2 linked regions of the Homo sapiens genome follow. The protein of the gene in region 2 purifies or fractionates together with the protein of the main gene of each other region. This does not show direct contact. Each region holds a gene or a part of one and is shown on either strand. Other genes may lie near its edges.

Region 1 (3,500 bases), on a different chromosome or scaffold from region 2:
TAACTCCATGACTAATGTGCCATCAGATGACCTTGGAGTGGTGTTCAAGTGGGCAGAAGTTGCCAATAGGGTAGAGGGAGCTCAACCTAAATCTAAGGGCGTGATTTATTGACATGACTGACAAAGGTTCAATGGCGTGGGATATGTTTACAAAATTTTAACTTCGATTTCAGAAAGCTTGAATCTTTTATACAAAAGCACCTCAATAAATAAGTAATCAACTAATAAGTGAAAAAAGTAATTGTTAATACTAACCACCACTTATTGAGCTGAAGCAATCATGGTGGCCACAGTTTATGAAATGGGTACCAGGCAACTGGTGCCGTGCAGAGCACTTTCAACCCTAGTGGACATGCGCTGCTCCGTCCTGCCCACCAGTCCTTCCTTGGGGAGCACCATCCCTGCTCTCTCGCATGCTGAGCCAATAGGGCTGTGGGTCACATCCCAAATACAAGCTCAGCCACATGCTGCGCACGGCCCCCATGTGGTGTCCATCCCTCTGCAGTCGTGTTTGGTCAGAAGGGTGGGCGTGTGGACCAAGCAAGCCTACCCAGAGGTTTATTTTCTGAGCAGGTGGCTGAGCTGGAGCCGTCGGAGGCACTCTCCCTTGGCGCGTGGAGACAGATCAATTGCAGAGAGAGAAGGGAGGCCACCTCAAAGAGTGAGCAAAGCTGAAAGAAGGAGGGGGACAGGGGCCGGGAGGAAAGATGACATAAGCTGCACCACTAGGCTCCTCAGTTTTGTGAGCCAATAAACCTACTTTGTCAGTTTTAGCATAGACATTTTTCCCCATTTTCACATCTCTGAAATTCAGATGTGTCCTACAATTGCTACTGGCCAGATGAGACTGTAACATCATCATCATGCTTGCACAGACTTGTTGAAGGAGAACACTGAAAAATGGGGTGACTTTGTTGTTATTCTCCGTGGCCTGACCGGGCAGATTCAGCCCCTGGATCCTTCCGCCAACAAACCCTTCAAGGGCCACTTCAGGAAGGAAAGCAAGTTTTGGCTGTTGTCTACAGCCTTTCCACTGATGCCTTTTGGTAAGAACATGTCAGGCCCAATAGCGAACTTGCGGAAGGTGTGTCAGGAGCTTGGATGAGAATCCCAGCTATAACAGAGGGGCATTCTCTCAGGAAACGCTGCATCATCCATCTCCCGAGACACAGAGCATGAAACTGCATGGAAAACACAGACATCCGTGCTCTGAGTCACTCAGAATCATTTAGAAGAGCTAGATAATGAGAAATATTTGGACCAGTTTATCATACTCATACTTTATGTATGCCTGGAAAGATATAATTTCTAAAGAACGTGTCTAAGTTTTAACAAGCTCTTTCTCTAAGTATAGAATAATTCTAAGGGATAATAAAATAGTATATCATGGTTTAGGCAGATTATATTCTAAATGCCACATTAAAAACATGATGCATCTTAAAAAAAACCCTTCATCAGACTGAAGATGCCATTGATTTTTTTTAACCTAAGTTAGAAGAGAGTTCTCATCGTTTGAAATTTTAAAAAGTCCTGACTAACACACATATATGATCTTATTTAATCCCGACAACAATTCTATAAGATAGGCATTGTCATCTCGGTTTTATGCTGATGACATAGCCCACATTCTGACACTGCAGGGAAATCAGCAGAGGCACATGGAAAGTGGCTCAGACCCAGCAGATGTAGGTACCAAAAAGATGCTCGGTTAATAGGTGGCTGGCTGTTCCTGATGAACAAAAGACAGACACAGTCGAAATGAGTAGTGCCTCGCTTTCCTTATCAGGGTGATCTAAGTAAAAGCAGGCAGCTTCACCACACACACGCAAAAACAAACACCCCCGACTGGTGCACTGCTTCTGGAAATGCTACACTTAGAAATGCATTTTTGGCTGGCACAGTGGCTCAAGCCTGTAATCCCAAAACTTTAGGAGGCTGAGGAGGGAGGACTGCTTGAGGCCAAGAGTTTGAGACCAGCCTGGACAACATGGTGAGACACTCTCCACAAAAATTTTAAAAAGTAGCTGGGCATGGTGGCATGTGCCTGTAGTCCCAGCTACTCTGGAGGCTGAGGTGGGAGGATCCCTTGAGGCCAGGAGTTCAAGGCTGCAATGAGCTATGATCAGGCTACTGCACCCCAGCCTGGGCAAGAGTGAAACCCCCATTGCTAAAAAAAAAAAAAAAATTAAATTAAATTAAATTAAGAGAAATAAATGCTTAAAAAATAAGAAATGCATTCCTTGGATTTGAATGCAGACTCTTTAAATGCAAATGGCCTTGGGGGAAACCCTAGTTTGCCCATTATGACTGTGGACAAGTGGATGTTTTAGATTTGTGGTGACAGCAAAGAAGGGAGGAGCCAGAAGACAAGAGTGAAGGGGTGAGGGGTTACCCAGGACAGAGGAAGGAGCCCAGAGGGACCCAAGACAAACTCCACCGACATCATAGGCTTGGTGGGTTTGGTGCAGTGTCCAGCACTGAGCTGGCAGCTCCCTGAGGCTCCAGGGCAGGGCAGAAGCACAGCCTCAGTGGGGTCCACCGACATCACAGGCTTGGTGGGCTTGGTGCAGTGTCCAGCACTGAGCTGGCAGCTCTCTGAGGCTCCAGGGCGGGGCAGAAGCACAGCCTCAGTGGGGAGTGCCCACCAGGATGAAGGGGGAGTGACAGGAGACCCCAAGATGCTGCAGTCTGCTCCTGCTCAAGCCCCAGCTGTCCAATGGGCCAGGCCTCTTATTCCTCAGCTCATTGAGGCCATTGTCTCACAGTACCGTGCCCCTCCACAGAGGAAAGGGTCACGCAGCTGTGCACCCCAGCGTTCCTCCAGTATAAAAAGCACGCCAGCCACCTGGGCTCATGGGAAAATGCAGATTCTGATTCAGTGGGGCCTATGGGGCCTGAGATTCTGCATTTTTAACAAGTTCTTGGGGGACGCCAAATGTTGCTGGCTCTTAGACCACCCTGAGCAGCGAGGATGGAGGAACTGCTAAGTGAATAATGTTAGTGGGTCAGGGGCTCCTCCCATGGCCAAAGGCAGCTGCCCAGGTGCCACGGGACACTAACATGTCCCCAAAGGAAATGCCACAGCATCCTATAGGACAGGACGGATGTCCAGCAGGGAGGGAGGGAAGGCACCAGAGGTGATGCTGAAACAGCAGGACAGGTGTTTTAAAGCTGGTTCCCTGAATGGGAGGCTGGGGGTCTCTCACCATGGATCTCCAGAAGGTTCTTGGTGCCAGCCTTGCGGTGCAGCTCATCGATGTTCTGGGTGATGACCACGACTCGCCGGCCCTGCTTGCCCAGCCGGGTCTCACACTCGGCTATGGCGCGGTGCCCGGCGTTGGGCTCCTTGCTCCCCATGACCTCCCGCCGGTAGTGGTAGAACTCCCACACCCGGGACGGGTTGTGGGCAAAGGCCAGGGGAGTCGCCAGGTCCTGGGAGTGGGAGAGGAGGCAGGAGTGAGGGAGGCAGAGACAGCCAGGATGCTGAACCCTGGGGCACA
Region 2 (3,500 bases):
AATCAATCCTTTTCAATCATCTTTCAAGAGAATCCTGATTACGGGCAATTATATATTAAGGGCAATTATAACCCATGCATCTGACTCCAGAGCCAGATTGCATGGGTTGTAATTATAGCCCTACCATGGTCTAGCTGTGTGGTTTTAGATGAGTAATTTAACCTCTCCGAGTCTCACTTTTCTCATTCATAAAACAAGGATAGGCATAGTGCCTACCTCACCCAGTGAGGATTAAATGAGTTAATGCACTGAAACCACATGGAGCTGTGCCCGGCATGCCATTGGCATTCAGTGGTAGCTATGTTATTTATCCCGGTCCCAGGTAAGTGAAGGAGAAGGATGAAGTGTGGCTCTTAGGCAGTCTTTAACATCCCTTAACACAAGCTAAAATTCCATTCTAACAGGGAGAGGAGCAGCTCCCAGGCACAGGGCTTTCCCGAAGCCACAGTAACCAGCTAGAATTTAATAACAGCACATAGCTTTCCTTGTATTGACTTTCCTTGTATCGACTTTTCTAGTATGTTACTTTTGCTTTGTGCCATGTGATATTGGTTTTCCATTTAAGGTATTTCTCTTTGAAATAAATGTGCTTCATGTTTTTAAAAAGTGATCCAATTTAAAGAAAAAAATAAGTAATAATAATTAGAACAGATACAGTGATATGGCAAAATTGGTGAAGAAAGGACACAGGTGACTGACACCTGATAAGATGGGATTAAACTGGGCTATTTCCTTCTTGGGACCAAGAAATATGACTTATATGGTTCGAATCCTCACAGACCCTAGCAGGTGCTGAGCCTGAAATCTTGCTCTTTGGCCATTTTCTCCAGAAGAAAGCTGTGAGTTAGTGTGTTGACCCATTTCATAGTTGGGAAACCTGAGGCTCTACAAGACTTATTCAGGGCCAGGAAGGAAGCAGAGTGAAAGAGGCTCCACCATTTCCCAATCTCTGCTTACCACAAACTTAGAGACTTTTCTCTCCTCGATGCGAGCTGAAGCGATCTCAAAGAGCAGTTTGACGTGCTTCCAGCGGCATTTCTGGTTCTGCCAGTACTGCTGAAGCTCCCGCGTGGTCATGCTGGAGTTGGAGCTCAGGCCACTGTGTGTGTCTGGAAGGACAACACCCTTAAGGATCTGCACCCTGTCAGTGCACTTCCGAGGCATGGGCTTGGGGAGATGGCTGGGTCTATCTGAGATGGCATATCAGAACTCCTGAAGAGTATTGAATATCCCTCTCTCCCACCCCGCCATTTATAGGCCCAATTGGGGCATCAGACAGACCTCTGTGCCCAGCCTGGCAGAATCCACCCTACCACCGACAATCCCAAATAGCCCATCACCCCCAAGTGGTTTCACAGCTTTGGAATGCGGTGCGGGCACTTTGCATCGTCCACTTCTGGTCTGTAGATTGGCCATGGTGAAATCCCTGCTCTGGACAAGCAGAGACGGTGGCTTGTGTGTTTCTGTGCTCCCTGCAGCCCTGACTTCGTGACTGTTGCCACGACTCCTTGAGCACACATCAGTGGGCAGGGGAGGCAGTGAGGAGGATGTTATGTTCCAGCCTCAGCGGGCTGGCCCTTCCTAACCTTCTCATCTAACTGCCCACATGCCGGGCTCTTCTCGGACGTGCACTGCTCTGCCTTGCATCCAACCCTCTATTTCCACGCCTGGAAAACGAACACAGTGTTTCTTAAACCCCACTTGAGCCCTGCGCCACTCTGAGGTTCTTAAGAAGCACAAATAATTGTGCATTTTATTGCAAAGGGCATGGGTCCCAGCCCTTTTCCAGTCTACCCTTCAAGACCCAGCCCCCACATCACTGCAAATGCCCCTTGGCATTAGAGTAAGAGCTTCCCACCTTGTTCCTACAGGTTTTTCATTTTATTTATTTATTTCTCGTGGCACGTGTAACTGTTTCTCACTGATCTGTTTCTCTACCAAACCTCAGGACTAGTGCAGTGTTTGATTTCTTCCTGTTTCTGTTTCTCCAGTGCCCTGCATAGGGCCAGGAACAGAGCAGGTATTGAATAGGGCATCTCGAAGGACTGTAAGAAAAGATCTGTTCCAGGAGATGGCACTACAGCAGATGCTGTCCATGCCCCAGGCTGGACCGTGCCCTCTTGGCACCCACTTTTCCAGAACATGCCACTGGCTTCCCTGAGGGCTTTCTAGGGCCATAGCAGCAGGCCCAGGAGCGTCCCTTCTCCTATGCAGGGCAGGACTGGTAGATAACAGCCCGGCTTCCTCACCCCTAGGATAGGACAACCCAGAGATATGTTCCAGGGTCTCCCAGAAGACCCCCGCTGGGGTTGAGCTTCAGCCACCTACCGTGCCTATCTGTTCACTGATGTCCTGCCCTGGCCTCTTGCCCTTTCCTTCCATTCCCACTCCCCTGCCATGACTCCTAGGACCGTCTCCCGGATAAACAGCTTGCACTAGATCTGTGTCTCAGTGTCTGTTTTGGGATAACCCAAGTTACAAGAGCTGCCCGGGCCTCTTGCTGCATCCCCCAAAGTGACCCACATTTGTACTTTGAATGTCTTCAGACCTCTCCCCCAGACCGAGTCTCAAGCCTCAAGCCCACCTAAGTGCCCGTCAGGTCCTGGGTGCGGGAGGTCGGGGCCAGTGGCTGGTGCTTCCTGCTGGGTCCTTGCCGTGCACTGGGTTATGGGTCCCATGCAGCCAGGGCTCCCAGGGTGCTCTGGACTTGCCATGCTCCAAGGCTGCCAGAGGAAAAAGAGAACAGTGAGGACCCACTCCAGTTGGGGTTCCCGGTGGCTCCTGGGGTGCCTAGGAGCTGTGTCATGCCCCCTCCTGGCAGGCAGAGGGAATGACAAGGGCCCCACGGCTCAACCTTCCCCACTCTCCCAGCTGCCAGATCCCAAATCTGGGTCTGCCCCTTTGCTGGGCAGGTTACTCCAAGGCAGAGAAGACCCTTCACCTATTGCGATGATCCATATGTTATTGAGGTGATCCTTACGTATTGCTCAGAGTTTTAAATGAGATGATTTCAAGTAAAAGTATTGGCTTTAGTGATTACTTGAAAGAAAGATGCTGGCTTGTCTAGATACTCAGTTTTATGTTACACATGCGAATGAAGTCTCAGTGTTCAAGTTGAACATGGCCACTCATGCCTGTAATCCCAGCGCTTTGGGAGGCTGGGTTAGAAGGATCACTTGAGCCCAGGAATTTGAGACCAGCCTGGCCAATGTAGTGAGACCCCGTCTCTAGAAAAAATAAAAAAAAATTATCCAGGATGCACGCCTGTGGTCCCAGCTACTTGGGAGGCTGAGACAGGAGGATCCCTTAAGCCCAAGAGACTGAGGCTGCAGTGAGCTATGATGATGCCACTGCACTCCAGTCTGGGTGACAGAACAAGACCATCTCAAAAAGAAAAAAAGAAAGGTCAGTGTTCAGAGCAGGTAGATACTGGTATGAATCTTCTATCGATCAATCAATCAATAATCTATCTATCAGCAAAATTAACTGATAGCTTATTA

The links.
Region 1: the proteins of SNX20 (region 2) and SIRT5 purify together in Homo sapiens (affinity purification with mass spectrometry; one large-scale study listed by BioGRID and IntAct). This does not show direct contact.

Annotation. Positions count from the first base shown.
Region 1 is NC_000006.12:13,591,601-13,595,100, reverse strand, and holds part of SIRT5 (NAD-dependent protein deacylase sirtuin-5, mitochondrial), read right to left. Parts: intron 3,433-3,500; coding exon 3,207-3,432; intron 1-3,206. UniProt on the Homo sapiens protein: NAD-dependent lysine demalonylase, desuccinylase and deglutarylase that specifically removes malonyl, succinyl and glutaryl groups on target proteins.
Region 2 is NC_000016.10:50,674,813-50,678,312, forward strand, and holds part of SNX20 (sorting nexin-20), read right to left. Parts: intron 2,724-3,500; 5' UTR 2,715-2,723; coding exon 2,585-2,714; intron 1,110-2,584; coding exon 958-1,109; intron 1-957.